Linked DNA regions of Homo sapiens: region 1 is linked to region 2. Evidence: fine-mapped expression QTL. A gene starts in region 2. The other region holds a variant in brackets. All regions are shown on one strand. Distances are between the middles of the regions. Region 1 overlaps ZNF322 (zinc finger protein 322). Region 2 holds the start of ABT1 (activator of basal transcription 1).

The links. PIP is the estimated chance that this variant, and not a neighbour inherited with it, causes the effect.
Region 1: its variant is fine-mapped to the expression of ABT1 in whole blood (INTERVAL, PIP above 0.99).

Annotation. Positions count from the first base shown.
Region 1 is chr6:26,638,906-26,654,884 of GRCh38, reverse strand. ZNF322 (zinc finger protein 322) reads left to right here. Exons shown (of 4, transcript NM_024639.5): 3 at 11,157-11,226. Among named protein-coding and RNA genes, the nearest start is that of ZNF322, 13 kb to the left of the region's middle. The variant T/ATTTT (reference allele first, on the strand shown) is at 8,853.
Region 2 is chr6:26,590,574-26,606,552 of GRCh38, reverse strand. It overlaps ABT1 (activator of basal transcription 1), which reads right to left and starts at 9,600. Exons shown (of 3, transcript NM_013375.4): 1 at 9,330-9,600; 2 at 8,443-8,639; 3 at 5,814-8,288. The coding sequence starts at 9,570. The coding sequence ends at 7,908. It overlaps TRY-GTA6-1 (tRNA-Tyr (anticodon GTA) 6-1), which reads right to left and starts at 11,679; the gene lies at 11,591-11,679. LOC105374989 (a long non-coding RNA gene) reads right to left here and starts at 3,820. Exons shown (of 2, transcript NR_187833.1): 1 at 2,962-3,820; 2 at 1-1,897. RefSeq lists enhancers at 9,312-9,751, 10,309-10,468, 10,569-10,718, a silencer at 12,678-12,972 and a cis regulatory region at 13,637-13,741.

The sequences.
Region 1 (15,979 bases), 48 kb before region 2:
CCAGGTTTCTATACTGTGAAGTTACTCTTTTTATATTTATAATTATTAAATATCTAGTGGGGAGATATTTTCAGATTATGTAAATATCTTGATTCTCATAAAATTTTTCATCCAGTAGATTTTTGCACAGTACTCTTCTTTTGATTGAACATCGTGAAATTTTTAATTCCATCATTTCTTCTATATTTGTTTGCTTTTCTAATGCAAAAAAACTTTCCCTTCTATACACTTTTTTTTAATGAGTACAAATTCATGGATTCTTATTGTGTGACTAATTTATTACTGTTATTACTTATTTCAATGTTCTGCTTGTTCCAGATTTGTACAGTGGCAGTCCTTCCATCCTGAATTGTGGGTCCTTCTGGCATATTGCACCACTTTTTGAGCACTTCCTTACTTTCTGACACATCAGGATGGTCCAGGCTTATCTTATACTTTCCAAACCGTGGAAACAGCCATTTCTCCAAAGAGTCTTGATTCTTTTCAATGTAGAATGGTATTTAGAAACCCATGTCTGAATGCTTGGTATACTCATTACTACTAGGATTTTATTGTTTCCATGACTTCTCAGCAAACATTACTAGGAAAAAAAAATAAACATACGTAATTTCACACATATATACGTTTCTTTATTCTCTATATAAACCTTAAAATCTTGACTTATACTGGTACTTCTAATTCCAGTTAAACACTACAGAGTTCATTCTAGCCTTTCTCTTTTCTGTTTGTAGCCTTCTTCATTGACAATGGGGAATCTAGGTGACATTATCCATAGTATATTTACTTATTTATTCGGTCCTAGGATACACATTAAGTAGTGTACCCTTATCCCAACAGGGGAGAAAATCTGTACTGATTCGAGTTATTTTTATCTTTAGATTGAATATACATAGTCCCAATATTGTGTTAGAGTTATTTTTTTTTCTCTTCTGTGTAGTTGTTATTTATTTGAAACACAGGCGCATTTGTTTTTATGCTTTTCTCTTCCATCTTGACTATTTAGTTCATTAGTTCATTCATGTATTGAATATGTAAAATGTAACATAATTCTAAAAGTAAAAATATGTGTGCTGTGTATTCATATTCTCAGAGAAATGTGACTCTTCTCCTCCACCCAATTCTGTTTTCCTGTGCCATCAATTCCATTTTTATCTGCCTTGTAATGATAACCAATCTCATTAGTTTCTTGTTTTTTGGGGCAAGTGGAGAACTACATATATAATTTTTTATTTTTACTTTCTTACATAAAATACAACATACTTTTTTACACTTTGCTTTTTTAAATTTATAATTTATCCTGGAAATCACTCCACATCAGTTGATAAAGATTTTCCTCATTCTCTTTTACAGTTGCATAGTACTCCATTATGTGTGGATGTATGTACCATAGTTTATTCACCATTTTCTTACATACAGATATTTATTTTAAATATTTTCCCGTTACAAACATTACTATGAGTAATTTTATGCTTTATATTTTCATGTTATTGGAGGTGAATCTTCAGAGTCCATTTCTAGAAATGGGATTGCTGAGTCAAAAGTAAATGTATATCTAGTTTTGTTACATATTGCCACATTCCCCTCCGGACGAGATTGTACCCATATGCATTCCCTCCAGCAACGTATGAGTTTGTTTGTTTCCTTACAGTGTTGACCGCAAAATGCATTGTCATGCCTTTTAATGTATACTGATTTAATTGGTGATACTGGTATTTCATGTACTTTTAAAAAATTATTTCTTTTTTTATAGACTTACCAGTTTGCATTCCCTCCAGCAACATATGAGTGTGTCTGTTTCCTTACAGTGTCGACAACAAAATGCATTGTCATACCTTTTAATATATGCAGATTTAATTGGTGAGAACTGGTATTTCATGTACATTTAAAAAATTATTTCATTTTTTATAGACTTTATTTTTTAGAGAACTGTTAGGTTCATAGCAAAACTGAGCAAAAAATACAGAGAGTACCCATATGTCCCCTACCACTCTCTTTACCCTGACACATGCACATACCACACACATAGCACACACAGCATCCCCCGCTGTTAATCTCTTCAACAGAGTGATACATTTCTTACAATCAGTGAACTTAAGTTGATACATCATTGCCACCCAAACTCCATAGGTTACATTAGGGTTCACTCTTTATGTTGTACATTCTATGGGGTATCTACAATTTTTTTTTTTTTTTTGAGACGGAGTTTCACTCTTGTTGCCCAGGCTGGAGTGCAATGGTGCGATCTCAGCTCACTGCAACCTCTGCCTCCCAGGTTCAAGTGATTCTCCTTCTTCAGCCTCCCTAGTAGCTGGAATTACAGGCTCCTGCTACCAGGCTCAGCTAATTTTTTGTATTTTTAGTAGAGAAGGGGTTTCACTATGTTGGCCAGGCTGATCTCGAACTCCTCACTTCAGGTGATCCACCCGCCTCAGCCTCCCAAAGTGCTGGGATTGCAGGCATGAGCCACCATGCCTGGCTTGACTTGCCAGTTTTTTTAAACTGGTTTGTTTTCTTGTTGAGTTTTAAGGGTATATGTATATTTTTGTATATTTTGGAGATTTTTAAATGTTTGGAATAACAGTCTTTAATCAGATGTGTCTTCTGCAAATATTTTCTCCCAGTCTGTGGCTTGTCTTCTCATTCTCTAGACAGTTTATTTCATAGAGCAGACATTTTTAATTTTAAAGTCCAGCTTATCAATTTTCCTCCATGGATCATACCTTTGTTGTTGTATCTAAAAAGTCATTGCCAGCACAGGCATGGTGGCTCACGCTTATAATCCTAGCACTATGGGAGGCCAAGGTAGGCAGATCAGTTGAGCTCAGGAGTTCAATACCAGCCTGGGCAACATGGTAAAACCCATGTCTCTACCAAAAATAGAAAAAATTAGCCTGGAGTAGTGACACATGCCTGTGGTCCCAGCTACTCAGGAGGCTGAGGTGGGAGGACCACTTGATCCTGGGAGGCGGAGATTGCAGTAAGTTGAGATCGCACCACTGCACTCCAGCCTGGGACACAGAGCGAGACCCATCCCAAAAATATAAAGTCATTGCTATACCCGAGTTTATCTAGATTTTCTCCTATGTTATCCTCTAGAAGTTTTATAGTTTTGTGTTTTATACTTAGGTATCTGATTCATTTGGGGTTTGTAAATTTTTTTTAATTGAGAAGTAAGTATGTATGTATTTATGATGTAGAACATGATGTCTCAATATATGTATACATTGTGGACTGGCTAAATCAAGCTATTTAACATATATTACCTCACATACCATTTCTTGTGGTGAGAACATAAAATCTACTGTCAGCAATTTTCAAATATGCAATGTATTTTTATTAGGCATGATGTAGAACTCTAGAACTTACCTACAGTACAACTCTAGAACTTATTCCTCCTGTTTAACTGAAATTTTGTATCCTTTGACCAATTTCTTCCCAACCCTGCTATGTCTCAGCCTCTGGTAACCACCATTTTACCATCTGTTTCTATCAGTTAGACTGTTTTATACTCCATATGTAAGTGAGGTTATGTGGTATTCATCATTCTGTGTCTGTCTTATTTCACTTAACATAATGTCCTCCAAGTTCATTTATGTTGATGCAAATGAGAGAATTTTATTCTTTTTTTTTTTTTTTGCATGTGAATGTCTAGTTACTTCAGCACCATTTGTTGAAAAGACTGTCTTTTTCTGCCTTGTATTTATTGCCTTTGTTCCTTTATCATGGATCAGCTGACTCTATTTATATGGGTATATTTTTGGACTCTATTCTGTTCCATTTATCTATTTGTCTGTTTTTTCACCATTACCACACTTTCTTGATTACTATAGCTTTAGTCTTGTAACTTCAAATAGTATAGTAAGTGTTGAAGTTAGGTAGCATCAGTCCTCCAACTTTGTTCCTGCCCTTCAGCATTATGATCGCTAATCTAGGTCTTTTACCTCTTCATATAAACTTTGTATCAGTATGTCAATATTCACAAGATAATTTGCTGGGATTGTGTTGAATCTGTAGTACAAGTTGGGAAGAACTGACTATTTGACAATATTGAATCTTCTTATCCATGGATGTGGAATATCCCTCCATTTATTTAGTTCTCTTTTTTATTTCTTAGAGTTTTCAAATTTTCTTTGCATAAATTATGAACATATTTGGTTAGATTTATACTTAAGATGTTTTATTTTTTAGAGTGTTAATGTAAATGGTATTGTGTTTTTAATTTCAAATTTTACTTGTTCATTGCTGGTATAGAGGAAAATAATTGATTTGTATGTTAACCCTGTATTGTACAACCTTAACTGTAATCACTTCCTAGTCCCAGGAGTTTTTTGTCAATGATTTTTTCAGATTTTTACATATATGGTCATGTCACTTACAAAGACAGTTTTATTTCTTCCTTCCTAATCTCTATACCTTTTATTTCCTTTTCTTGTCTTGTAGCATTATCTCTCTATTCCAGTATTATGTTGAAAAGCAGTGGTGAGAGAGAACATTCTTACCTTGTTCCTGATGTTAGCTGAAAGCTTCTAAGTTTTCACCATTAAGTATGATGTTAGCAGTGGTTTTCTTGTAGATGTGCTTTATCAACTTGAAGAAGTTTCTCTTTGTTCCTAGTAATATCACTTATTTTAATTTGCATTTCTCTAATTATGAGATTGAACAGCTTCTCATATATTTAAGGGACATTTTTATATTTTGTGTGTGTGAGAATTGTCTTTTGCTTATTTTTCTATCAGATGTTTGTCGTTTTCCCTCAATTTTTAAGAGATCTTTATATATTAGGTATATTGTCCCTGTATCTCAAATATTGTTACAAATATTTTCTCTTAGTTTGCCCATTGACCGTTGACTTTGTTCATTTTTTATATATATAAAATGTTTTTGGCTGGCACAGTGGCGCACGCCTGTAATCCCAGCACTTTGGGAGGCTGAGGCGGGCAGATCACCTGAGGTCGGGAGTTCGAGATCAACCTGACCAACATGGAGAGACCCCGTCTCTACTAAAAATACAGAATTAGCCAGGCATGGTGGTGCATGCCTGCAATCCCAGCTACTCAGGAGGCTGAGGCAGGAGAATCACTTGAACTCAGGAGGCAGAGGTTGTGGTGAGCCAAGATCACGCCATTGCACTCCAGTCTGGGCAACAAGAGCGAAACTCAGTCTCAAAAAAAAAAAAAAAAAAATATATATATATATATATATATATATACACACACACACACACACACACACACACACACACACACATATGTATGTATATATAAAAGAAAACTTTAAAAAAAGTTTTTATTTTTAGTCAAATGATCAGTCTTACAGATAGAAAATTTTTGGTACCCTAAGATTAATGTAGAATTTACTTTAGTTTTCTTGTAGTATCTTATCATTTCCATGTATACATTTAGAACCCTAACCAATTGGGAGTTTATATTGGTGTGTGGTATGAAGTGTAGACCAAATTGTACCTATTTTCATGTGGCTACCTTGATGTTTTACCATCATTTATTAAAAAGTCCATTTTTGCCCTGGTGATTTGAGATGTCATCTTTATTGTATACTAAATTTCTATATGTGTTTATTTCTGGATTTCCTTTTCTATTTGTCCCTTTATCTAATTGTGTTTTGGAACTCTGTTGTTTTAATATTAGAAGCTTTAAAGTTTATTTTAATGTCTCATGGGTTTAGTTACCCTTCATAGTCTGTCTTTTCATTGCTTCATGGCTGTCCTTGTTGGTCTTTTCAAAGTGAACTTGAGTAGCAACTGTACAGCTTAGGCATTGGAGATTTTTCTTTAAAGGGCCAGAAAGTATTGTATTTAGGCTTTGGTGGCTATCTGGTCTCTATTGTGACTACTCAATTCTGCCTTTCAATACATTAATGAATAAGTATGACCCTATTTCAGTAAAATTTTATTTGAAAAAAACAGGTGGCAGGCCAGAATTGGCCTGTGGGCCATAGTTTGCCACCCCTTAGTCTAGTTTCATAAAGAAGCTTGTTATTTTTATTGAGATTGCATTGTTTATAAATCTTAGGAGGGAACATCTTCATAATGTTGAATTGTTCTATGCAAGAACAAAGGCTGTCCTTCCATTTATTCGAGTCTATTTTTGGGTCTCAGGAGGGAGAAGTTTTCCTATGCTTTATTTGGCATGGCTATGTTTTATTTATTTCTAAGTAGTTTTATATTGCTGCTGTTATACAAAGGTTGTTCTCTATCATTGTGTGTTCCAATTAGTTATTCTTTATATTTATGTAAAAAACTGGTGGTTTCTGTGTGGCAAATTTTATATCCTGCTACCATACTGAATTCCTTTATCATTTGAGTTAGTTTTAGCATTGGTCCTTTGTAGGGTTTTCTAATTCTACTATTAAATCACCTCCAAATAGAGATAGTTTTACTTCTTTCACACCTCTAATTGATTTTTCTAATTGCATTGATTAATACTTCCAGGTCAGTGATTGAAAAGAGAAGTATTGGCCATACTTGCCTTGTTCCTGATCTTAGTAAAAATTATTGTAGTTTTTCTAACTTAAGGTACTGGATGAAGGAATGTATGTTTTATCATATTAAAAGGAAATATCTATTAATTTCCACTTTCTTGAGTGTTTTTATCCAGAATAGATGTTGATTTCTGTTGCAGGTTCTTTCACTATCTATGGAGATAATATATTATTTTTCTCCATAGGTCTGTTCATATGGGGTATTATATTTAGTGGATTTCCTCATATTGAAAGATAGTCTAATTTTGAACCAATTTTGCAAAAATTCCACTTGGTCATGGTATATTATTTTCTTAATGTGGTATTGATTTTTGTTAGTATTTCTCACATTCATAAAAAATGTTAGCCAGGCATGGTGGTGTGTACCTATACCCCAGCTATTCAGGAGGCTGAGCCAGGAGAATTGCTTGAGCCTAGGAGCTTGAGGCTACAGTGGGCTATGATTGTGCCACTGCTCTCCAGCCTGGGTATCAGAGCAAGACCCCGACTCTTTAAAAAAAAAAAAAAAAGCGATATTGGATATTAAAATTTTTTTATGCTCTCTTCATCAGGTTTAGTTACCAGTGCTATCCTTATTTCACAAAAAGAATTAGGAAGTTGTGCTTCATTTTCGGTGCTCTGGAAAATATGTATGAAGCATTGTATTTATTTGGTCTGTGTAGATTTATAGAATTATTTCGTGAAATAATCTGGGCCTAGTGCTTTTTATGGAATGGTTCCTTTATAACTTTTTCTATTTATTCTCTGCAAATTGGTGTTTTAAGACTTTATATCTTTAATGGAGTCAACTCTAATAAATTGTGTTTCATAAAGAAACCCTTATTTTATAGTTAATCATATTTATTTATATAGAGATTTGCAAAGTGGTTTCATGTATGTGTGTTTTTCTTTTCGGTGGTTATTCTTCCTTGTCATTTCTTATTTTGTAAATGTGTGCTTTCTTCCTTTTTTTCAATTAAGTAACCTAGTGGTTTATCTGTTTCTTTAAGTTTTACAAAATAAGTATGATTTTGATTTATCATTAGATTTACTGTCTTTTTGTTCTCTAGTTCATTGATTTCTCCTTTTATCTATTTTTGTTATTATTTTGATTTTTTTTCCCATTAAAAAACAAAATAGAGACAGGATCTTGCTATGTTGTCCAGGCTGGTCTTGAACTCCTGGGTTCAAACAATCCTACTGCCTCGGCCTCCCAAAGCACTGGGATTGTAGGTATGAGCTACCATACCTACTTATTTATTTAAAATAGAAATTGGGTCTCATTAATATTGCCCAGGCTGGTCTTGAACTCCTGGGCTCAATTGAAATTTATTTTTTTCTTAGCTTTTGATCTAAGAATTTAACTTGTTCATTTAAATTCTTCTGTTTTTATTGATTAAAGAAATATAGGCATGAACTGGTTTAAATTTATCCCATAGATTGTAATATATAATATTTTCAATTATGAATACTTAAAAATTTTGTTAACTTTTTCATTGCCCCTTTTACTGAATAGTTTTTTAACAGTTTATTTTCCCCCCATTTGAAAGGACCTTTGGTCGCTTGATATTTTAATAAATTTCTAGTTTTGTTGCAGATTGTTTCTTGTAATGTTTCTTTGCGATAATGATGCTTCCTTTATTACATAATATATGACAGATTTTTGTGGATGATTCATGTGTTCTTAAAAAGAATGTGTACTTATCAGGACATACGGTTTAATATAAATAAGATTTACTTATTAATTAGGTTATTTAGGCCTTCTGCATCATTACTTCTTGGTCCAGTTTGTATGTCTTTTATTGAGAGTGGTATATTAAGCTTTCCTATTATTAATATTTTTATCTCTGTTTCTTTGTATCTGTTTCTCTGTTTTTCCTTTGTAAATGTGCCTGCTGTGTAATGTGATACATAGATAACCATGACTTTAGTGTAATTTAGAAAGTATTATTATGTTTAATTCTTTTGGCTTGAACTCTACTTTGCCTGATATCAGGATCAAAAGCCCTACTTTTATTGTTTCTGTTTGCCTAGTGTTCCTTTTCCCACCTCCTTATTTTTAGCCTGCCTGAATCACTTTGCTTTAGGTGTCTCTTGTATTTAGCATATAGTTAGGTCTTGCTTGTGAGCCAAAATGAAAATCTCTTTCTTTTAATAGGTGTGTTAAGCTCATTTATATTTATTGATATAGTTGATGTTTGGTTTTAACAATGTCATATTGTTATAACTGTATTTTGTTACTTTTTTTTCTACGATAGGTTTTCATAGCTCTTTCATGACTTTCTGTTTTGAATGTTTGATTTTTGTTATATTAGCTACTTTTGTACTTAGATTTATTTATTTATTTATTTATTTATTTATTTATTTATTTATTT[T/ATTTT]GAGGCGGAGTTTCGCTGTTGTTGCCCAGGCTGGAGTGCAATGGCCTGATCTTGGCTCACCGCAACCTCCACCTCCTGGGTTCAAGTGATTCTCCTGCCTCAGCCTCCCAAGTAGCTGGGATTACAGGGATGTGCCACCACACCCGGCTAATTTTGTATTTTTAGTAGAGACAGGGTTTCTCCATGTTGGTCAGGCTGGTCTCGAACTCCCGACCTCATATGATCCGCCTGCCTCGGTCTCCCAAAGTGCGGGGATTACAGGCGTGAGCCACCGCACCTGACCATACTTAGATCTTTTTTAATGCCTTTAGTTCATTAAAAAAATAAATTTTTATATTTAACCTTTAATTATTTGGTTTTTAAGGGTTTCTAAAATTTTTCTTTTCTAAAAGGCCATTTCAGCTTCAGATGGTTTTTTAGTTTAATAGTGTACTTTAATTCTCACCTGCCATAAATACAATATAGTAATCCCACCTTATTTGTGGGGGATATGGTCCAAGACTCCCAGTGTATACCAGAAACTGCAGATAGTATTGAACCCTAAATGGCTTTTTTTTTTCTATACATACTTACTGTGATAAAGTTTTTTGTACTTAGAGTGGGTTTTTCTTTCTGGCAATGAATTTTAGGTCAGTCTTGCCCACTGCTAGCTCTCTTCTCTTTACCTCTCATTCTCAGATTGTCCTTGCTCTCCTTGATAGCTTATGGCTAGAATGTGAGAGACAGCTATATGGGATTTGGTGACAGTGTGGGCTTTGTATAGTACATTTGTTCTTCTTATTCTTACTGCTTTTAAAGGATGTGTTGAGAGATTTGGATTTCTGTAGCCACTGTTATCCCCTCTGACTGTGTTTTATTACCACATTCTTTATATTTCCTCTAGAGATATTTTCCTTTTTTTTTTCATATTTAAGTCAGTTTTCTGTCCACTGACTTCCATGGCCAATTTTAAATAATTGGTGTGCAAACACCGCATGTTCTCACTTATAAGTGGGAGCTGAACAATGTGAACAGTTAGACACAGGGAGGGGAACAACACACACTGGGACTGTAGCAAGGTGCGGGGGGAGGGAGAACATCAGGAAAAATAGCTAATGCATGGTGGGCTTAATAACTAGGTGATGGGTTGATAGGTATAGCACATGTTTACATAGGCACACATTTACCTATGTAACAAAACTGCACATCCCGCACAGGTACCCTGGAACTTAAAATAAAAATAAATAAATAAATAGATAAATAAATAAATGGTGTGAAAACTTACAGGTTTTCTGAGAAGTCTCAGTTGACAATTACGTTTTACAACTTCCCTCACTTCTATATTTAGGGCTACACCGAGCTTAGGCCCCATACTGAAGAGGACCAAAAGGGGGAAAAAAAAGAAATAAAATCACTGCTGGTTGAATGGCATTTAAAATTCTGCTCTTTCCTGACTTGCATGCTATGTGCTTTTTGGAGTTGTCAAATAACTGGGCCATACATTCTGTCCAGACTTCATAGTTGGATTCAATGGGATGACATCTGTGACATGTATTTACTCCATCTTACCTGGAACTAGAGCCATAAAACATGTCATTTTAATACTAGCAGCTATAAGCTAAGTGTCATAGAGAGCCTCAGCTGTATGGCCCTATATGTTGCCTGGGTCCAAGTAGTTCCATTTTTGCTTCTGATCCTCAGTAGCAGGAAGGTTGTTGAGGGAACTGCAAGTCCCATTAACCTAAGGATAAGGCAGGTTAAAACTTCTAGAGAAAGACATCAATGGTTAAGTGTGGACTCTCTAACTTCTTTTTGTGCCCCTAATTGACCACCTCCTGGGTTGTTTGTGGTTGAAATATAAATCAGCTTAGGGTGTTATAAATTTTGAATTACCAAAATTGTGATGATTACGTGGGTTGCAGTGGTGGTAAGGTGGTAATTTTGTTATAATCCCAAAAATACTTTGTAGTCCCTATTACACTTTGGATCAGGACAGCCTGAGTTCCTGTAGGGAAGATAATGCCTTCGTGTTTTCAAGATACCACCAAGATTTAGTGTTAGGAGCCCTTTCCTTCAATGTTGTTATAGTTGCAAAGGAAGCTATAGATTGTGCAGATGGGTTATAGATTCTGTATTGTCCTTTTCTCTAAAGAGTCATATGGGATGATTTAAGACTCTACAGAATTGAATTTAAGGGATTAGATAAGAAAACCCATCTGTTCTTTTTAACTGTAGTTTACCCATTGTTAAATCCTTTGAGTGTAAATGATCTAGTGCTAAATTCTCTCATTTATGGCTTTTTATCCTTGTCTTTGTGTTTTACAGAATGCTATCTTCTTTGAGAAGTCAAATTGTCAGGATCAGGAATGTATGTTTTCTTCCATCTGGATTCTAGGTAAGCTGCAGTTACTTCAGTATTTTGAAGTATCCCTTCTCTTTCCCAGACTCCATCTCATCAGAGTACCTCCCATTCTTTGTGACATTCAGTCCTTTTATCAGACAAGGAGAGAAGTAGAATTTCAATGAGAATTCATACATGTACTCAGCAGATGCTTATTAAGCACCAACTTTGTACCTGGCATTACTGTATATGGTAAGGAAAGATAAAACAGACATCCTTGTCATATTTTAGCAATAGACAATAAACTGAATAAAGTGAATTATATAGTATGTTAGAAGGTTTTAAGTGCCATGAAGAAAAGTAAAGCAGAAAAGGGGAATAGTGAATGCTGGGGCATGAAGACTATTCACAACTTTAAACAGAGTGGTTAGGAAAGGCCTTCCTCAGAATTGACATCTGAAAAAATAGTCTTTGAAGGAATTAAGAGAAATTCATACACACATCTGGAGGAAGAAAGCTGTAGGCAGAAGAAAGAAAGGGCAAAGGCCCTAAGGATAGTATGTTTGGATGAGGAACAGCTAGGAAGCCATTGCGGCTGGATTAGAACATGCAAAGAGAAGAATAATATAAAAGGGTGTCAGAGAGGCAGTGACAGGCTAGCAGGGCAGCTCAAGTGGGCCTCTTGGGCTATTGTGAAAGTAAGAAATAAGAGTGGTTTGGACTGGAATGTAACAACAGAAGCTGGTGAGAAGTGGTTAGACTCTGGATGTGTTTTGAAATGGAGCCAACAAATTTGCTGATGGCTTGATTGTGAGGTGTGAGAAAGAAGAGTGCAGGATGACTTCAAGGTTTTAGCCTGAGGAAATAAAGGATGAACTTGCCATAAACTGAGATGAGGCAGGTGATAGGTGGAGTAGATCTGGAATCCAGCCCCAGTATAAGTCCTTTGCTCACTTCCTTTGACTATAAGGCAAAAACAGATACTTGCCATTTAGCTCTGTAAACTGAATTTAATAAAAGAAAATAGGAGTAATGCTTGTGATACGTTAGGCTTTGAGGATTGAGATTATGACGGTGACAGAGTATACTGTGGACTTGTAGTCTAAGGAGTTCTGTGATACCGTGAAAGTCACCTGAAAGATGTAATTTGGACCAAAAAAAAGTAATTTCTAGGACAGTTCATAGATCATGGAGATATGCTCAAATATTTCTGAAGGGGGCCTACCCCTCCACACCTGTGGGTATTTCTTGCAAGGTCCTGTGGGTAAGGTGGAGACGAGAGACTGAGAAAAGAAGACAAAGAGAGACAAAGACAGAGACAAAATATAGAGGAAGAAAAGTGGGCCCAGGGGACCGGCGCTCAGCAAGTGAGGACCTGCACCAGCACTGGTATCTGAGTTCCCTCAGTATTTATTGATCACTCTCTCACTATCTTGGTGAGGGGGATGTGGCAGGACTATAAGGTAATGGTGGGGAGAGGGTCAGCAGGAAAACATGTGAGCAAAGGACTCTGTGTCATAAATAAGTTTAAGGAAAGGTGCTGTGCCTGGATGTGCACATAGGCCAGATTTATGTTTGACTTTACACAAACATCTCAGTGCAGTGAAGAGCAGTATTGCCTCCAGCATGTCTCACCTCCAGCCATAAGGCGGTTTTCTCCTATCCAAGTAAATAGAATGTACAATCGGGTTTTACACCGAGACATTCCATTCCCAGGGATGAGCAGGAGACAGATGCCTTCCTCTTATCTCAACTGCAAAGAGGCCTTCTTCTTTCACTAATCCTCCTCAGCACAGACCCTTTACGGGTGTCGGGCTAGGGGACGGTAAGATCTTTCCCTTCCCACGAGGCCATATCTCAGGCTGTCTCAGTGAGGGGAAATCTTGGACAATACCCAGGCTTTCTTGGGCAGAGGTCCCTGCGGCCTTCCACAGTGCATTGTGTCCCTGGGTACTTGAGACTGGAGAATAGCAATGACTTTTACCAAGCATACTGCTTGCAAACACATTTTTACCAAGGCACATCCTGCACAGCCCTAAATCCATTAAACCTTGAGTCAATACTGCACATGTTTCTGCGAGCACAGGGCTGGGGCTAGAGTTACAGATTAACAGCACCTCAAGGCAGAAGAATTTTTCTGAGTACAGATCAAAATGGAGTTTCTTATGTCTTCCTTTTTCTACATAGACACAGTAACAGTCTGATCTCTCTTTCCCCCACATATTTGAAATGTAGGATTTTAATCACTGTATTTAGCATAAACATGTCTGTTTTGTTTAGCTTGTCTACTTCAGTTTTGACTTCCCTATTCTTGTTAGCCTTGCAGTGCATTTTTCTCCCATTATGTCCCGCGGTGGTCACAATACTACATTTCTTGTGGATCTGTGTTTTGACTCTGAAGAAATTGCACTACTCCCACCTCATTCAGTTCTTTCTCCTATCCCTTTAAGTTTTAGAACAGTTCTGAGTTGACATTTGAAATCTTGGTATATCTTTTTATATTTATAAATAACTTTTACTTACTACAATAAAATTGAGTAAAAGTAGCAGCCTCTGTGCCTTTCGCAAGGAAAGCATACAAATTGCTGAATGGAAATTAGAAAACTGTTGTTAACAAATTGATGAAACAGAATGTTATGTATCATCTCATTACCCAGAGGTAACCATGTTAGTACCATGTGTTTTGGATCCTTTTGACTTCCTGTTTTCTCTGAGTGCACATGTTCCTTTGTGTTCTGGTCCATTACACTTACTAATTTGCTGTATTCAGTGAGCTTTAATATCATTTCCTTTACAAATAGGCTCCAATCTAATATCTAGTTTCTTGGATTCTGGACCTTTTTGATAATTTAAGAAACCGTGTACCTTCTCCCCAGAAAAGTGCACATATACTGTACATTTTGCAGTCAAAGTTTTCATAAATTACCTGGGAGTCTGTGGATGCCAAGTAAGAACTCCTCTTCTAGGTTTGAGTGCCTACTCTGTGCCAGGCACTTTTCTGAGTGCTGGGGAAACAATAGTGAATGAAGTGAGCCAAAAATCCCTGTCTTTTAGGGGCTTACATTCTATGGAGAAAAACAAAATAGGAAAGGAGAGGAGTGTTGTTTTTGTGAGTCAGCTGGGACGGAGATGTGGTACAGTTTAGAATAGGGTGGTTGGAAATGACTTCACTGAGAATATGCCTGTTGAGCAAAGATGTGAATGAGGTGAGAGAGAGAGCCTTGAAGATTCCTGGAGGAAGAGCCCTTCATCCAGGAAGAGATATCAAGGATAAAGACCCTGAAATGGGAGTGAGTCTGGCTTGTTTGAACAACAGCAAAGACTCAGGGTGACTGGAGTGCAATGAGTAAGTAGAGGAAGAGCAGAGAAATGGATCAGAGTAGTAACTACGAGTCAGATTTCTTAAGAGCTTGTAGGTTTCTAACAGAAGCAGTTTTGGTGGAGTAGTGAGGGTTGATTGTTTAATTGGAGTATGTTCCAGAAACCTTGGAAGACAGAATTGGAGACAATGAGCAGGTTTATTTATTTCAAAGCGTTTTACTGCGGAGAGGAACAGAGAAATGGGACAACAGCCTGAGTGTGAGGCAGTTGAGAGGTTTTTCTTGTTGATTGTGCTTTTGTTTTTGAGAAGAGAAATAATATTGGAATGGTCCAATACGAAGGAATAAATTGATAATGCAGGAGAGGGAGGGTGGAATTGCTAGAGTGATGTCCTTGTGAACAAAGGGGGTATACAGATGGAAAGGCTATCCTTAGATTGAGCAAGGAAGTTTGTCATCCCTGGTAGCTGAAGGAAAGATGCAGTACGTGACCACACTTACAAGAGGTTGGTTGATGTGGTGGGGGCATGTGGAAAGGATTTTGGTTTTTGTGTATGTGTTGTTGTTTTGCTTGCTTGCTTCCATTTTCTTGGTAAAATAGGAAGCAAAATTATCAGGTTATACTCTTTAGGTGACAGACGAGGGGTCTGAATGTATGAGGGAGGGTCAAACATGAAAAGATCACTGAAGAGAGTTAAGTGTGAAGGATATGGAAAATGGCTTTTTTTCTTCCTTTTATTTCTGTTCTTTAGTCTATTTTTGGTAATTGATAAATGCATTGACTTATTACTCCCTCTGAACTCTCTTGTATCAACCTAACTTTTTTTTAAGATACTTGATCCTTTAGGTGTTTCTGTATGTGTACATACCTCTAAACCACAGAATGAGGAGGAAAAAACTTTTTTTTACAACTTTTCACCATGTAAAGAAAAGCCTGTTATAAAATCTATGTTCCAAGCCTAGACTTGTATCTATAATCAGTCAGGATTTTTCTTTTTGAGCAAGTTATGTGCTTATATAATCATATCAAAGCAGAATCTTAAGCCCCTTTGTCATAATAACAGTGATAGTAAGAGCCAAAACAGAGGGCTTACCAGGAGATTCATAGCGATTTAATATTCCACAGAACCGTGTAAGGTAGTTTCTATTATTAATCCACTTTACAGATGAGGAAACGAGGCATACAGTGGTTAAGAAACTTGCCTGATATCACCACTACGAATTAGAGTCATAGAAACCTTACTTTTCTCTCTGGTCACTTGGAATTCTAATGATCATTAACTACTTTCTTCCAAGCTTTCTGCAGAAAGGACTCCAGAGATACTCATTCACTGTCCCTTTTGATTTGCTTTCTTCATGAGCAGGCATAATAATTATTAGTCTTGTCTTGATTTCTCAACTGAAGCAAGGAAAGATGAAGAGCTCTTGTTTAAAATTACCCAGATTCATAGAGAAAAGAGTTCTTACTTGCAGTTTCCCATATGTAT
Region 2 (15,979 bases):
GAGAATAACTTGGCATTGTAAATGGAGAGTGTGTTAGGTCCTGGAAATCACTTAGGAGAACAAGCACTTGGGGAACATCCATATATACTCTCCAAAGAAGGGCGAGCAAACAGAAGTCTTTGGAACATGAAATGCCCCTGGAGTTCATGAGAATGTTTGGGACTCTGACTGTGAGATGGCAGAACTATGCTTGAGCCAGCCATTCCACTTTCAGGTGGGGGAGACAAGTCACTTGTTCTCATCAGGTACATCTTTGTAGTATTTCTATCGGACTTTATTTCCATTTAAGGTGTACTGAAACTTCTGAAGTCTTCAGATTCAGCAAGTCTATCAAAGTCAAAAGGCTTTTTGGAGCAAGATCTGGATCAGAATGGAATCGTTCTAGGGAAATCATTTGTCTTTTATCCTAAGTTTCTTCAGGTCCTCACAGGACAACTATGGATTCTAGATTTCTGAGCCCACCTAGCTTAACCTTCCTTAGTGATCTGATATTCCAGGGAAACATATTGTCCTGGGCCTTTCCAAAGTGGCCCTGTTAGAACAGGAGCATGTGGATCCTCTTCCCAAAAGCTGCATGTGATCTTGGCTTCAATATACTTTGTTGGTTGTATGCATTTTATGTTCCTTTATATATAAAATATAAAATAAATATAAAATGCATACAACAAATTTTTAATTTTTTAAAAAATAGAGATGAGGTCTCACTATGTTGGCCAGGATGGTTCTGAACTCCGGCTTCAAGCAATCCTCCCACCTTGGCCTCCCCAAGTGCTGGGATTAAAGGCATGAGCCACAATGCCTGGCTCATTTTATTTTCTTATGTAACTAAGTTTTTCTCAGCAAGCAGATTCGATGACCTCCAGTTATCATAATTTTTCCTCATGGGAACTCATCTGGCATTGTGAAGAACAAATAGCACTTTCAGGATTTTCTGTAAGACGTTTGGCCCATTTTCTGTAGAAATGCAACTTTCATGTGCATGGCTCAGATCATCATCTATTTTGGGACATTTTTTTTCTCCATATTAAGTGGAGCAAACATTGTCCAGACTTTCATTTCTTTCTGTTGTCATGCCGCTAACTCTGCTGAAGACTTTAAAAGTCACTTCAAATTGGGTGTTTTCTGTGTGCATAGATTCTTTCCAGTTTGTATATATTTAATATGATCTGAAAGTGCTTCTTCTATATTTTTTTCAGCCAGTTCAGCATGTTTAATTTCTTTTTCCTCCAAAAGGTTTCCAAGAAACACTTGAGGTCACATGATAAATCAGTTTCTCCAATGATTCTTTTGATGAATCATGAAAGAATGTCCATTTTCTTTAAAAAAAAAAAAAAGGGGGAAAAAAAAGACTGTCCATATTCTAACTTATTGCTTATATACAATTCTAATTTACACCATCCATATTATCCTCTCCAAGTATAGCAGCTAGATTGGTCAGCTTTATCCACTCTTGAGAAACTTGATATAACATTCCTTATCAGTAGCATTTCTTGCATATGCACCATAGAATCCTTAGCCAAGAGACCCACTGGCCTTTGTTTGTTTAATGGTGTGTGTGTGGGTGTGTTTGCACACGTCTGTGTGGTAGCACTGAATTCCAAAGAAAAAACTAAACAAGCCAACCAGAAGTCCAACATGGAATATAGTGATCCGTAGAAAAGGGCATTCTACATTGAGCCACCAACCCAAATCTCTGAAAATGGCAAATACAGAATTCTTGGTCGTAAAATAGATTATGAGGTTTGTCTATTCCTAAATAATAGACATTTACATCCTTCCTAACTGGTATCTTCATCCAATCCCAGGGAGCACCTCCTCTCAAAACTCCCCATAATTGCTGTTGAAAGATCTATCCAGTTTCTTTTGTCTGTTTCAGCCTAGGTTCTCAGAGAGACATCTTTTAAAGACAAAGATGGATATATCAAAACTCCAATAAGCCATTCCAAAATATCATAAACAAAGAGGCCACCCTAACTTGCCTGTTTAATATTGCAAACCACATACCTCCCACTCCCTGGTCCCCTTACCCTGCTTGACTTTTTCTTTGCTCCATAGAACTTATTACCTTCAAATAGATACAATTACTTATTTGTGTTTATTATGTGTTTCTCCCCAGCTTGAAAAATCCACCCTAGTCTCTGCTGTGTACTGTTGATGTATCCGAATGCCTAGAACTGTGCCTAGCTTTTAGCAGACACTCAATAACTGTTAGTTGGGAGACTAAACGAATAGAGGACATCCAAGAGTCAACAGTTCAAGTTGAGGACATCATCCTAATGTAACCTGACTCTTGGGCTTAAATGTCACTGAAAGGACTAGAAAGACAAATAGGGTAGTGAATATCACAACATCCACCCACCCCCTACCCATCATCGTACTTCAAAGGTCAACCCACATATGCTTAAGAAAATGAGAAAAACAGGAACAAATTTAGAAAATCCTAATATTCAGAATAAAACCCAGAAGAAAATGATTAGAAGGTATACATACTGGAGAATGAGAGGAAGGCAGAAAGAAAAAGAGGAAGCAGGAAGACAGGCAGAAAAGAAATAAAATCTGTCACCAACTTACTCTTTAAAACACAAATATAAAGTATGATCGCAATTTCAGGCTCGCAGTTTGGTGGACAAGCACTAATGTATAGGAGTTTCTGGTTTCATGTCCTGGTGTTTGGCCCCTTACTTTCCCTTAATATTTGTATCAGATTTTCCATTAAATGGTTTTCCCCTCTGCTCTTGCTGGTGTCTTTCTCATTTAATATATTTCCTTCTATGCAACAGCCTTCCAGTGGTTTCTCTCTCAACTGAACTATCAGTGAAAACTTCCTTATTGAACCGAAAATAAATTCTTTCCTTTGATTCTACTCATACTTATTTTGCAAAACGCACCAGTCCCGCGTCCTGCTCTCCACCCAATTAACACTCTTATGTTCCTAAGAATAATATCTGTATTATTACAAACCTCTGTGTTTTGTTGTTGTTGTTGTTGTTGTTGTTGTTTGAAACGGAGTCTTGCTCTGCCACCCACGCTGGAGTGCAGTGGCGCGATCTCGGCCTACTGCAACCTCTGCTTCCTGGGTTCAAGCAATTCTCCTGCCTCAGCCTCCCAACTAGCTGGGATTACAGGCGCCCGCCATCACGCCCGGTTAATTTTTGTATTTTTAGTAGAGATGGGTTTCACCATGTTGGCCAGGCTGATCTGGAACTCCTGACTTCGTGATCCGCCCGCCTCGGCCTCCCACAGTGCTGGGATTACAGTGTGAGCCACGGCGGCAAGCCTATAAACCTCCGTTTTTAAAACACATTAACATAGCAACAATGAGAGTCAAAAAAAGGGAAAACATTTTTCCAATACACGGAGAAGTAGCCTCCTTTCTAATGTATTGTTTAGACTGAAAAAAAGTAAAATAACCTTGTTGGAATGGAGATATTCCACCACATTCATTTCTGTGGCACAATTGGTTAGCGCGTTCGGCTGTTAACCGTAGGGTTGGCCGTTTGAGCCTCGGGTGCCGGAATTTCATGAGAAACGGTATTTTCTTACTTCAGGGATTGTGTCTGGCAAATTAAATGAAAATCCAACCATTATTCTTCCCCTGGTGTTCCTTGGGTATTTTCATTTCCTTGTTTCTTGATTAAATTTACCAAGCTCCTTCTAAATGCCAGTAGATATGAAAGCAATCCCATGTTTCTGAACCACTTGTTTTGTTTCCAAACTCCATCTCTCTCATGTGCTGGTCCATCCAGTAGAGTCCCCACAGCAAAAAGCAGCAGAAGTCACTCGGCCAAGGTCTTGCAGAGCTTGCCCCCTACACTGAGCTGGCGTCGCCTCTACCTGAATCAGTTCCTTGGGTCAGGCTTTGGACGTCACAATAGAGCACGAATAAAAGGGGTGGAGACCTCTAGCTAGGTTTCCACCTGTATTCCTGTGACTGGTATTTTCCTGTGACTGGTATTTTCCTAAATTATCAGACTCTCAATTTTTTTCTTGCTAACAAAATAAATACCAAAGATGGTCTCTCTTAGACTCTGCAATTCCGCTTCTGACAATTTTTACACAATAGCTGTATTTGTACAACTAAAATTGACTCATGTCAGCATTATTCTTTTAAACACTTAAAAGAAAAAAAGATTAGAAGAAGCTGCACGTCCAACCATAAAGTCCTGATTAAATAATCAATGATAATTGACACAATGGAATTGGAGGCAAAGGTGAAAAACAAAAAGAAGTTCTCTGAATTCATTTGCAGGCAATGTGCTGGGGGAGCTCACTGGAGTGCGCTAACCCTGATAGCCCAGGTCAGCCACAGACTGGCCACAATAACTGCTGAAGGTGGCTGGGCACACACCATGCAGCTGCAAAAGACATTGCCAGGTTTCCGATGGCCTCTCCCCTCCGCCCGCCTTCGTGTCTCCAGTTAACAAGGGGTGCGAAAAAAGTGTGGTTTCAAGGGCCCTGGTAACAGAAGATAGAAAATTTTTCATTTTCAATCTCGGCTCACTGCAACCTCCGCCTCCCGGGTTCAAGCAGCGATTCTCCTGCCTCAGCCTCTTGCGTAGCTGGCATTACAGGGGCCCGCCATTACACCCGGCTAATTTTTGTATTTTTAGTAGAGACAGGGTTTCACCGTGTTGCCCAGGCTGGTCTCGAACTCCTGACCTCAAGTGATCCACTAGGCTTGGCCTCCCAAAGTGTTGGGATTACAGGCGTCAGCCACCACACCCGGCCAATTTTCATTTTCTTTAATATTCTGTCAGGTATTGATTTCAAGATGGGAGCCGAGCACCGTGGCTGTAATCTCAGCACTTTGGGAGGCCAAGGTGGGTGGATCGCTTGAGAACGGGAGTTCGAGAGCAGCCTGGGCAACACAGTGAGACCTCATCTCTACAAAAAATATTTTAAAAATTAGCTGGGCGTGATGGTGCATGCCTGCGGTCCCAGCTACTCAGGAAACTGAGGTGGGAGGATTGCTTGAGCCCAGAAGATGGAGGCTACAGTGAGACAGGATCATGCCACTACACTCCAGCCTGGGTGACAAAGTGAGACCCTGTCTCAAAAAATAAAAGGGGGGTGGGCAGGGACCAGCAGATCTAATACTGGATCTTAAGCAATTCACTAAAATTCACATTAAGCCTCCTGGGAACTGAGCATGTCCCTAGACTTCCACCAAAGGATTTTCCCCTCATAATTCTACTGTAATATAACAAGATAAATGCAGGGAGAAAGGTTTTATAAGGAATCACAAAAAAAAAGGAATTTGAGAGTAGCTGTAAATACGACTTTTGAACATTTTTAGGGCAGGGCGTGGTGGCTCATGCCTGTAATCCCAGTACTTTGGGAGGCTGAGGCGGGAGGATCGCTTGAGCCCAGGAGCTCAAGGCCAGCCTGAGCAACATAGAGAGACCCTGTCTCTGAAAAAAAAAAAGAGAGAGAAAGCTTTTAGGCACCCAGACATACCCTATTAAAGCCCTCTTACTCTACCAGGAGTCCCACCTCAACTTATTTGGAAAGAAATCAGCCCACTCCATTGCCATCAAATGCAGAGTCCCAGCTTCTCAGTCAGGAGTGAAACTAAGTTGAATCAGAGTATACACTACAACCACAGGATCATGACTGAGAATTATTACTCAGTTTGCTACTCTTGGTGCTAGATAAAATAAATCCACTCATATTGGCAGGTACACTTCATTCTCTAGTCTATAACATGTGCATTTCTCATGAATTTCCTGTAATAAGCATTCACCATATGCACACTGGGAAAAGCTGGGGAAAAGGTGAGGAACAAAGGATAAAATATTAAGAGGCAAATTGAGTCATCTCTCTGAGCTCAGTTTTAATGGGGGGATAACAATATTATATAGTTGTGGATTAAATGAGTTACTTCATATAAAAAAACAAGTGCTGTTTAAATAGAAACAAAATTGTGGATGTAAAAAATTATTTTCCTACACTCAATGGGCTTAAAGTCAAGATGAAAGTTCCTAGGATATTTTCTTCCACCCATTTATTCTCATTCCTCACTCCACCTGTGACTTACTTAGCTTGCCTGGCCGCAGGTGTGAGCTCTTTGTACAGAACTGTTTTGGAGATGGACCCTGAAATACCAGCCCTTGAACATACTGTTATCTAACGCTGTCCACCGTGGGAATGCAATTTATTTCTTCATTCAAGAAAGTCTTAAATAAAACCCCAGTATGTCTACTGTACTTTCTAAGCTGTTAGCAACTAGAGGGAAAGTTTCTTCTTCACCTTGGTATCTCTTTATCTAGCAGAAGTAGCAATGGGCACTTGGAATTCTGAATAAATGAATATGCCAGCCTGTCAAATTCTGATTCTGGATTTTTCTGTTTCACTTTAAGACATCAATGATCTGAGGAAACAATTCACATGAAACAAACCCACAAGAATTAAAAACAGAAACAAGACGAAAGTTTCTAAATGGAAACGTAGTTTGTGTGCCAAGTATAAGAGGTATGTGGGTTGTGAGAAATGTTATACCAGCTTTACCGTATGGTCCTTTTTATTCTCCCCAGTAAAGTGCACCTGTCAAGATCATAATGTGATTAGGGTATTTTACAGCCAAAGTAGACAAATCCACTCTACCCTATAAAACACAGATCATCACATTGACAGATGAAAAACAAAAACAAACAGCACAAGCAAACAGAAATTATAATCATACTCTATCACTTCATGCAACAGCCTGGAAAATGATCAGAATTTTGGTCTACGTGAGACTGTGTAGACTGTTTATTGTGACACCTAGGTTTTCAGTTCCTTTTAGTGGCTTACACTGATTCTTTGAAGCCTACAGGGCTGCTTTGCCTCAGCCCCACCATATGTAAGTGCACCTGAGGTGCACTGGTTCTCTACTAGGCTTTGCCCACCTTTACAATGGTTCCAACTCAACACTCCACCCAGGAAGCATTCTTTGTAATTGTGGGAGCACTCCACACTCTTTCAGACTTATTATTCTCCCAGTTTACTTTGTAGGAATGATCTGGAAAACTTGGTGAGGACTGACTCACCACTGAAGACTGTGATCATCAATCAGGTTCCCATTGAGAGGACTCTATGACCTGCCATGGCTCCCATTCCACCCTTTATATGCATCTACCACGATGCCTATCTTATACTAGTGGCCTGTAAAACTCTTAATACTAAGATGTGTTATTACCTATTGTCACTGTTTCCTCAAACAATGGCTTAGAAAATGCTGACTTAAGATAACTGATTGATAAACTGGGCTAAGATATTAGACAAAAATTAAATAGAAAAAAAAATCCAGGTTAAACAGTAAGGTGGGTGGCAGGGGGAGGGGGGCTCTAAGATCAGGATATGAAGGTGAAGGGAACACAAGATGAAAGTTGGAACTTGTCCAATGACCTCCCCACCAACAAAAATAAAAAGGCACATAAAAATATTTTTATTTTCTATAAATACATTAGGAAATGTATTTCTTCCCAACCCAGTCCACCCCATTAACTCAATTTTTTCTACATAAAAAAGATGCTAATACCACCCTCACCTGTGACTGCTAAACAGAGAAAGATTGCCTGGACTAGGCATTATCCTCCTAGTTGGAAATAAAGGCCCTTTCTGGGGGCAGGAAGTGGGATTTTCAGGGGACCCTACAGACGTAGGCAGCCAAGAGTCAAACAAAACAAGCATATGCAATAGTCATAATTATGCTAGTATGACAGTATGAATTAGGTGACTCAGCCAGGCACATACAGGAGTTCGGAGTGGGGACAGTGGAAGCCCACAAAACTCCATGTTTGGGCCATCAGTAGACACTTGGTCTGAGAAACACAGTAAAATGTCTGCCCGGGTAGTCACGATCATTCTAGTATGAGGTAGACAGGAAGCAGAGCAGGGCCAGGAAATGGAAGGGGCCACCCAGGCCCTCAGGAGTCCCTGACAAGGGAAGGTCCCTCCATGCTCTCTGAGGGTGGCGGGGCTCCAAAGATCCTGGCCAGGAGCCCTTTGTTGGAGCGGGCCTTGTCCTGGGCAGTTGCCAGGCGAGCCCGTTCACGTCCCCCTGGCCGTGCTGCTTTACGGGCCCTCAGTTCCTGCTCAGTAGGACGCTGGGCAAATGTCCAGGAGCCATCTGGGCGAGCAGGGTCCCCATCGGCCGCAAGAAAGCGTTGTCCCCGTTCCACACTTTGAAGATAGAAGTCGGTCTCACGCTTGGCTTGAGCAACCTCCGCTCTCAAGCGCTGCCTGCGCACCTGGCGCTCAAAGGCGAGGTGCTCGCTGAGGTGGGACCAGGTGAAACGGTGCAAGTACTGTGGGCAGAAAAGAAGAAAAGATCAGGATAGTGCAGATTAGGGAGAAAGATGAGACAAGGGGACAAGGCCAATGAGAGGCCATGGGGATACTTGGGCCAGAGTTGGGGAGAAGGGAGGGTGAGAGGTGTGGCAGAAAGATCTATCTTCTCACCTTGAGGTTCCAAAGATCATAACGGAAGGGGCTGCGCCTGCGGGCACCCATAGGCGTGTTGTGTAGACTGGCCGCCACGCGCTTGGCTATGCGCTTGTCACGGAACTCCACCCATCCCTCGGTGTAGTCCTTGGTGTAGGACCGCTTTTTTCCTCCGGCAGCTGCTGCTGCCTTCTTCTTGCGTCTCACGAACCGGTCTGCGCGCCAAAGACAAAGACCCGTCCAGGACGCCTATGCAGCACTCACTCAAAAGCACCTCCCACTGCCCGCAACGTTCTTCACATCTGCCAGTGGGAGTCCCACCTGAAGAGTTTTTGCCCAGGAGGAAGGGAACTGTAAATCGCACCCTTTCCTCTAGCTAACTCAATTCTTTCCTTAATTGTCCACTCCTTAATCTGGCCAGCCCTGAACGCTGCTTAAAACCGGCACAAGTCCTCAGCCTCAATGTAAAATTGAGGGTGGAAAGAAGAGGGGCGGTTGATCAAATAGTTTCTTGACCTAGGCAGCAATGCTAAAGAGTTATGTTCAGTTTTGTAGAAAAGCTGACGAGACTTTTACTCAGGTTGTATTCATGTAACAAACCAGTAAACAGGTCCGGAAAGAGAGGTGAACAGAGCCGGGATAAGAACACAAATAGTAACAATCCGAGAACTAAAGAACCACCAGACACACTGCGCTACCCACTCTCCCCATATCCCCTCCGCCCGCCCACCCCAGCATCCTCACAGACTGATTCACCAGCCAGGAGCCAAGCACCGCACTCCCCACCCCCAAAATCCAGCAACTCGTGCCTCAGCCTCGCGCAGCGAAGCAACAGGACATGCATGCTTGCACCCCGCCAGCGAGCGACAACCTCCTCCTGTCACCGTCAGGGCCTGCATACTTACCCTCAGCCTGAAAGAAGACGCGTCCGACCTCGCCATAGGCGCTGAGAAGGTTGCGGACGTGCAGGGGCCGGAAGCGCGGCGGGATATGGCCCAGGTACACAATACCTGGCACTACCCGTTTCTTGCTGCCACAGGCCGCTTCTTCGGATTCCTCCTGCTCCTCCTCCGCATCTAGTGTCTGTTCTGTCCCTTCCAGCGGCTCTTGCTCCGTTGCGGCCTTCTCCGATTCCTCTGCCTCCATGTTGACTGACACGAGCGGCACGACGGCCGTAAAGTGCCTTGCCAACTGACGCAAAACGCGTGCGACGGCCTGAGACGAGGGGGCGGGTCCAAGGTGGTGATGACAAATGAAAGGAAATGATTGGGCAATACAGTCGGGTCCAGGGGAAGGCCGAGGGGAGAGGGAGGAAGTGGTGTGTCAGGTCGGAAGCCTGATTCAGAGCGTGGAAGCGGGATGGGAAACTTGGGTTAGGCTCAGATTCCCGGTCAGATCTCCAACTCAGGACAGGCAGAACCAGAAAAGGCAGATCCCCAAATATAACCTACCCTATAGAACGCCTTGTCGAGACGCTAAAAGGCGGGTTGATGCCGGCTTTTTAGGGAATTTTGCAGAACAATTTTAGAGAAGTTTCTATGTGTTCTAGCGATCAAAATAGCATTTTATTCAAGGGCCCCGGGTGCGATTCCAGCTGAGGAATGACTCACCTTTTAAAGTTTATAAATTTCATTTAAAAATTTTGAGTTTTGAGGTTTTAACTATTTCTGGAAATTTACCTCGGAATTTTGAATATTTTAAAATTTAATTTTGAAAACAGTTCAACTTTGGAAATTTAATTAGATTTAATTTTTGAAAATTTAAGTTGTGAACTTTCAGTTTAATATTTTACATTTGATTTTGTGAATGTCTGAAAATTTAAATGTGTGACAATTATTTGAAGAATTTGTTTGGCATCTATTACACGTGTGTATTGATACATTATCCATATGCATACTTATGTTGCAAATACTTGTCAGAGGCGCACAAGCCTCCAATTCTGGCGACCCCCCGGCGGCGCGCTTATTTCTGCTCTCCCTGGGTCTGTCCTCAGATTCCCTATCAGATCACAAACCACTTTTCCTTCTATGACCTACGCAACCGCAGAACGGACCGGGCCACGGCGGTCCTGCTCCCACCAGGCGGCCTGCGGACCATCCCTAAGCCAAGCTCAGGGCAGTTTTCCCCGCGCGGGCTCGGGTCCTCAGTCTCTTATCGTCGCCCGAGGGCGCGACCAGCAGGGGGCGCCGTCCCCACCCTTGAGGCGTTTCAGTTCTTCCCATCGGCGCCAGCGACAAGCTGACTGCAAAGGACAGTGCTGGGAACCGCGTACAAGTAATCCGGTTAGCTTTCTGGAAGCAGCCCGGGGCGAGTTTGATGACTATCAACATAAATCCGTCCTTGCTGCGGCCTGACAAAATTTCCCATCTCGCTCCAAGAGCGCAGAGTAGCCCAGAGAATGGAAGCAGGGAGTAAATGTGTCCACTATTAAAATCAGAGATGACAGTTTTTGCCAGTCCCCAAGTATATTTCTAAAGTAACAGGGCCCTGCACTCTTTCATGGAGTGTCTAAAAGTCTAATAATAGACTTCTCGAATTCAAACACGCCTGTTTCATTAACTTTATTGAAGAGAACTTTCTGTCAGGTAGGTGTCCACTGCTCCTTTTTTGAAGAGGAGCGGGGTACGATGAGAGCGATAAACTCCGTCTACTGCTATTTAATTATAAACACTGACATCTTCAAAACACAGTACAGTTAATGAAATGAGAACACGTGTTGGGGTGGCTTTAAAAGATCTGGAGCTAGGGGAGGGGCATGATGGATGCAAGAGTGTCGGTAAGTTGTGCCAGTGTGGTGGCTAATGGTAGCTATTAGCTATTTTCTCTACTTTGTATATATTTGAAATTATCATTAATAAAATGTTTATTCACACCAAGTATCAATATAACAGGGGGTGCTAAAGGACCGTGAAACCGACAAAAAAAAAAAAATGAAGCCTTGGGGCAGCGTGTTCTTCCCGTTCCCCACATTCCTCATGATCCCTTCTCAACTTGGTGAAAATCGAGTCCCACTCAACTGTCTGTGAAGCAACCCTTGTTAGCAATTTTCAGGGTGGATTATTTTCCTTCTCTGAGCGTCTTACAAATTCCTGAATAAGCAAGCTGCACATGCGTTCTCCAAGTTTCCTTATTTCAGGCCCAGAAGAGACACTTTTAAAAATGGAACTCCTCCGAGCCGGATTCGAACCAGCGACCTAAGGATGACCACATTCAAACCCCTACAGTCCTCCGCTCTACCAGCTGAGCTATCGAAGGATGTCATTACCCTCGTTTTGGATTCTTTAGGATTTACCTATTGCTTTTGACTATCCTGTATTCTTGTTCATTTTGAAAATATAGGGAAACGTGAGGAAATTTTCTAGGATATTAGAAATGTTCCAAAATGTTCTAAAATGTTCTTATCTGAGTAGGGATACTGACTATACAAGTATATGAACAATTCTCTTGAACATTTAAAATTTGTGGGTTTTACTGTAAAAATGTTTCACATAGGTCCAAAAAAATAAAAAATAAACAAAACCACACCAATATTCCATGTCCTCCTCCCTTAGAATAGATAGGACCATTGCCCTTATTGCGCGTGTTGTCCAGCTGTCCTGTCCGCTTAGCACCTCCTCTCTCTATAGGAAGTAAATAATAAAGACAAGGTTATTTTAGACAACTGGGTTGAAGAGGGGGGACCTACCGCCTTGAAGCGAAGTTACTGCCCAGTTCATTTCGGAAACATTGAGATTCTCCTTTCTGAAGGGCAAGGAAAATTACACAATTTGTATAATTTGTAATTTGTGTTCGAGACACAAAACAGAAGTGCGTTGTGTGTGTACATATGTTTAGGAATTGAGCGGCTCATATGATATTGCACAATTGTAATGGGACAAGTAAATGAAACACAACACTTCTCTCTCCCCCTACAATTTAAAAAAGAAATATAGCATTCTATTTACAGGTGTCAACCTAAATAACAAAGAGAAGCTCTCTGAAAGAAAATGATGTTTATTTGGGAATAGAGCATTGCAATGAAAATACGAGTGCCATAGGAAACTATGTATATTCAGGGAGGTAAAGGAAGACAAAGGTGTTTGTTTGTTTGTTTTTGAGTTGGAGTCTGGCTCTGTCGCCCAGGCTGGAGTGCAATGGCGCAATCTCGGCTCACTGCAACCTCCGCCTTCCGGGTTCAAGCAATTCTCCTGCCTCAGCCTCCCGGAGTAGCTGGAATTACAGATGCCCGCCACCACGCCCGGCTAATTGTTGTATTTTTAGTAGAGACGGGGTTTCACCATATTGGCCAGGCTGGTCTCGAACTCCTGACCTCATGATCCGCCCACCTGACCTCATGATCCAGAATATAAAGTGCTGGGATTACAGGCGTGAGCCACCGAGCTCAGCGACAAAGATTTGTAAGGGAAAAAATGAGAAGGATTATATAACTGTGTTGAGGTAATTATTGTCTGCTACAAAAATGGATAGCAAAGAGGAAGCTAGTCCGAGGTTGGACAGGCAGTTGTGGGGCAGATGTCCTTGTAGAAGTATTTTTTGTGTAAGATTGTGATGGCCTGTGCAAGATTGTGGTTTTTGCAGTCTTTTGTGATAGTTTTTGTTATCAAGCATGGCCTTTTCCAGCTCTATTAATTAGCGTTTTTAGTTTGTTTTGTGTGTTTGTGTGTTTTAACAATAGTGACTCCATTTTGATTCTGACAGTTTTCACAAAGGTATGCTGTCATGCTTTGCTAATAAGTACCTATCATGGTATTCAGCTTCCTCGTGCCTAAAACAGAAATGAACACCAATGGGAAGAACGGGAAGGCATCTGGAGAGACTTTTCTTTTTTATAAAATTATTAGAAGTATATGGAAATTATAAATTGTGAAATTTATGGAAAGGAGTGTTGGTGAATTTATTTATAAAAGATCATCACTTATTACAGTTAAAGTTCTCCATAATTGTAATCTTGACAAAAATACGGTTTTTTTTTTCAAAAGATCCTCTCCAGCGTTTCCCATGAGAAATATCTGCAGCAACATAACTAATATTTAATTCAGTTATTCAATTCATTGCCATGAGAAACTAAGAATATATGGTCTGGTAAATTCCTTTCCAATAATGTAACCTAGTCGGGGAAAATACGAGAAGCCAGAGAAGAGAAATGAGCAGATTCTTATGAGATGGTCTCTGCCCATATGAAGTGTACTAACTGAGCCTTGGACACCAGATGTGAAAGCAGTTGACCAACCCTGCCATTTCACCACCAAACCCCAGGATCTCAGTTCACATGCTTTCTCGAATAAAAGCTTCACTAATTTTCACAGGGGGCAGCAAACATACAGAAAAAAATGCTCAGTATGTTTCTCATCAGTTACTGCTATGCTCAGGAGCTCCCAGAGCCTCCTGACTCTCAGTGACACGGTACTATAGAGTTGATTTTGATCAGGAAGAACTCCAATAGCTAATCTCATCAATTATTTTCTTTACCTATAAACTAATCTTAGCATAAGAATCACACCTCAGGGCTGTTAAAGTTGGAATTTCATTTGCCTGAAATGCTCTTTCCCCTGATAATCCCCAATATTTGCCTCCTGGGAATACAAGAACAAGTAATTAGTACCTTTCCGCACTAGATTTCTGTATCACTTTGAGGGAAGACTTCCTTCTTCCTCTTCTTACAGAATCTGGTGTCAGAACGGCCATTCTATTTATTCCCTCTTGTTGCAGACACAAGTTCAAAATGGGTTTATGGCTAAATCTAACTATCTGAAATAATTCTTGGAAATGTATCATCATCACTTGATTACAATCTCACCCTGTAGCTTCTCTATTGTTTTAGCACCTTTTCAACTTGCGAATTGAGTCCTACCTAGATGGTTTTAACTTCTCTTGAAGCTTACAGACCACTATAATATTCCTATGGAATAAAAAGGAACAAACTATTGGTAAACGTAACAACAGGGATGAAACTCATCTGCATTATGCTGAATTTACAAAGCCAGATACAAAATGCTACATACTATATTATTCCTATGAAATTCTTGCAAGGGCAAAGCTATAGGGACAGAAAATATCCTTAGTTGCTACTGGGGTAGAAGATAGGGGAGAAATTAAGTATAAAAGAAACATAGTGATTCAGTAAGAACAAAATAGAAAAAGAAGAAGAGGAAGAAGAAGGAGAAGGAGAGGAGGAGGAGGAAGAGGAGGAGAAAGAAAGAAGGAAGAAAGAAGAAGAAGAAACAACTTCTTTCTTCTTTCCTCCTGGGAGGCTAGGCCTGGTGTCATGCCTGTAATGGCTTGAGCCCAGGAGTTCCAGCCTGCAGTAAGCTATGATGGAAGAACTGCACTCCAGCCTGGGTAACAGAGCATGACCCTGTCTATTAAAAAAAAAAAAAAAAGAAGAAGAAGAAGGAGAAGGAGAAGAAGAAGAAGGAGGAGGAAAAGAAGAAGAAACATGCAGAAATTTGGGGGTAGAGTGATATTATTATTCCATATCTTGATTGTAATGGTGATAACACGACTGTCTATATTTGACAAAATTTGCTACACTAAGGAGAATGTACATTAAAACTGATGACATTACTGTATGTGAATTGTACCTTAATCTAAAAAATGGGAAGAGTAACTTTCAAAGAATTAAAGAAGAAAAGAAAAGTGTAGCTTAGAATTTAATTTTGAAATCAATGTAATCAGTGTAATTACTTTATTATCAGACTAAACAGGAAAAGCCATATGATTATTCCAGTAGGTGTAGAAAAAAGCAATTGACAAAATTCAGATACATTTGTTAGAATTTCTGCAAAGTATAAAAGACATATTTAAGAATTCAACAGCTAATATATTTAGTGATGAAAAACTCAAATGTTTTGGCCCTAACATCAGGTCCAGAGCAAGGATGTCCACTCTCACAACTTCTATTCAGCATTATCCTAGAGATTCTAGCCAGTGCAATAACACAAGAGAAAGAAAAAAATACAGATTAAAAGGAAAAAGTGAGACTATCTTTATTTGCATGTAACATTATTGTCTACGAGAAAATACTGAGGAAACTTCTACAAAGCTACTACAACTAATGAGTAAGCTTACCAAAACTGCAGGACACAAATATAATAAATTGTAATTCTATTTATTAATAGATTGTATTTGTTAACAATAAATAGTTAGAAATTGAAATACAAAATACCATTTGAAATAGTATAAAAAATATGAAACATTTAGAGATAAATTTACCAAGATGCAATGAAAGCAATGCATTGTTTCCAGAACAGAAAATTTAAACAATTTTCAGATATCAATTCCACATCTTTCAAATTGACTGATACATTTAATGCCATGACTATCAAAATCTCAATGATTTTTTTTAGAAATTGGCAAGCCAAATATAAAATGTATAAAATGTATACAGACAGTCAAAAGATGCAAAATATCCAAACTAATTTTGAAGAACAAAGTTGGAAGAACACTACCTGATTTCAAGACTTACAACAAAGCTACATAGAGTCTAGAGATAAACTTACATGATTATGATTAATTGATTTTTGACAGAGGTGCCAAGGTAATTCTACAGGAAAAC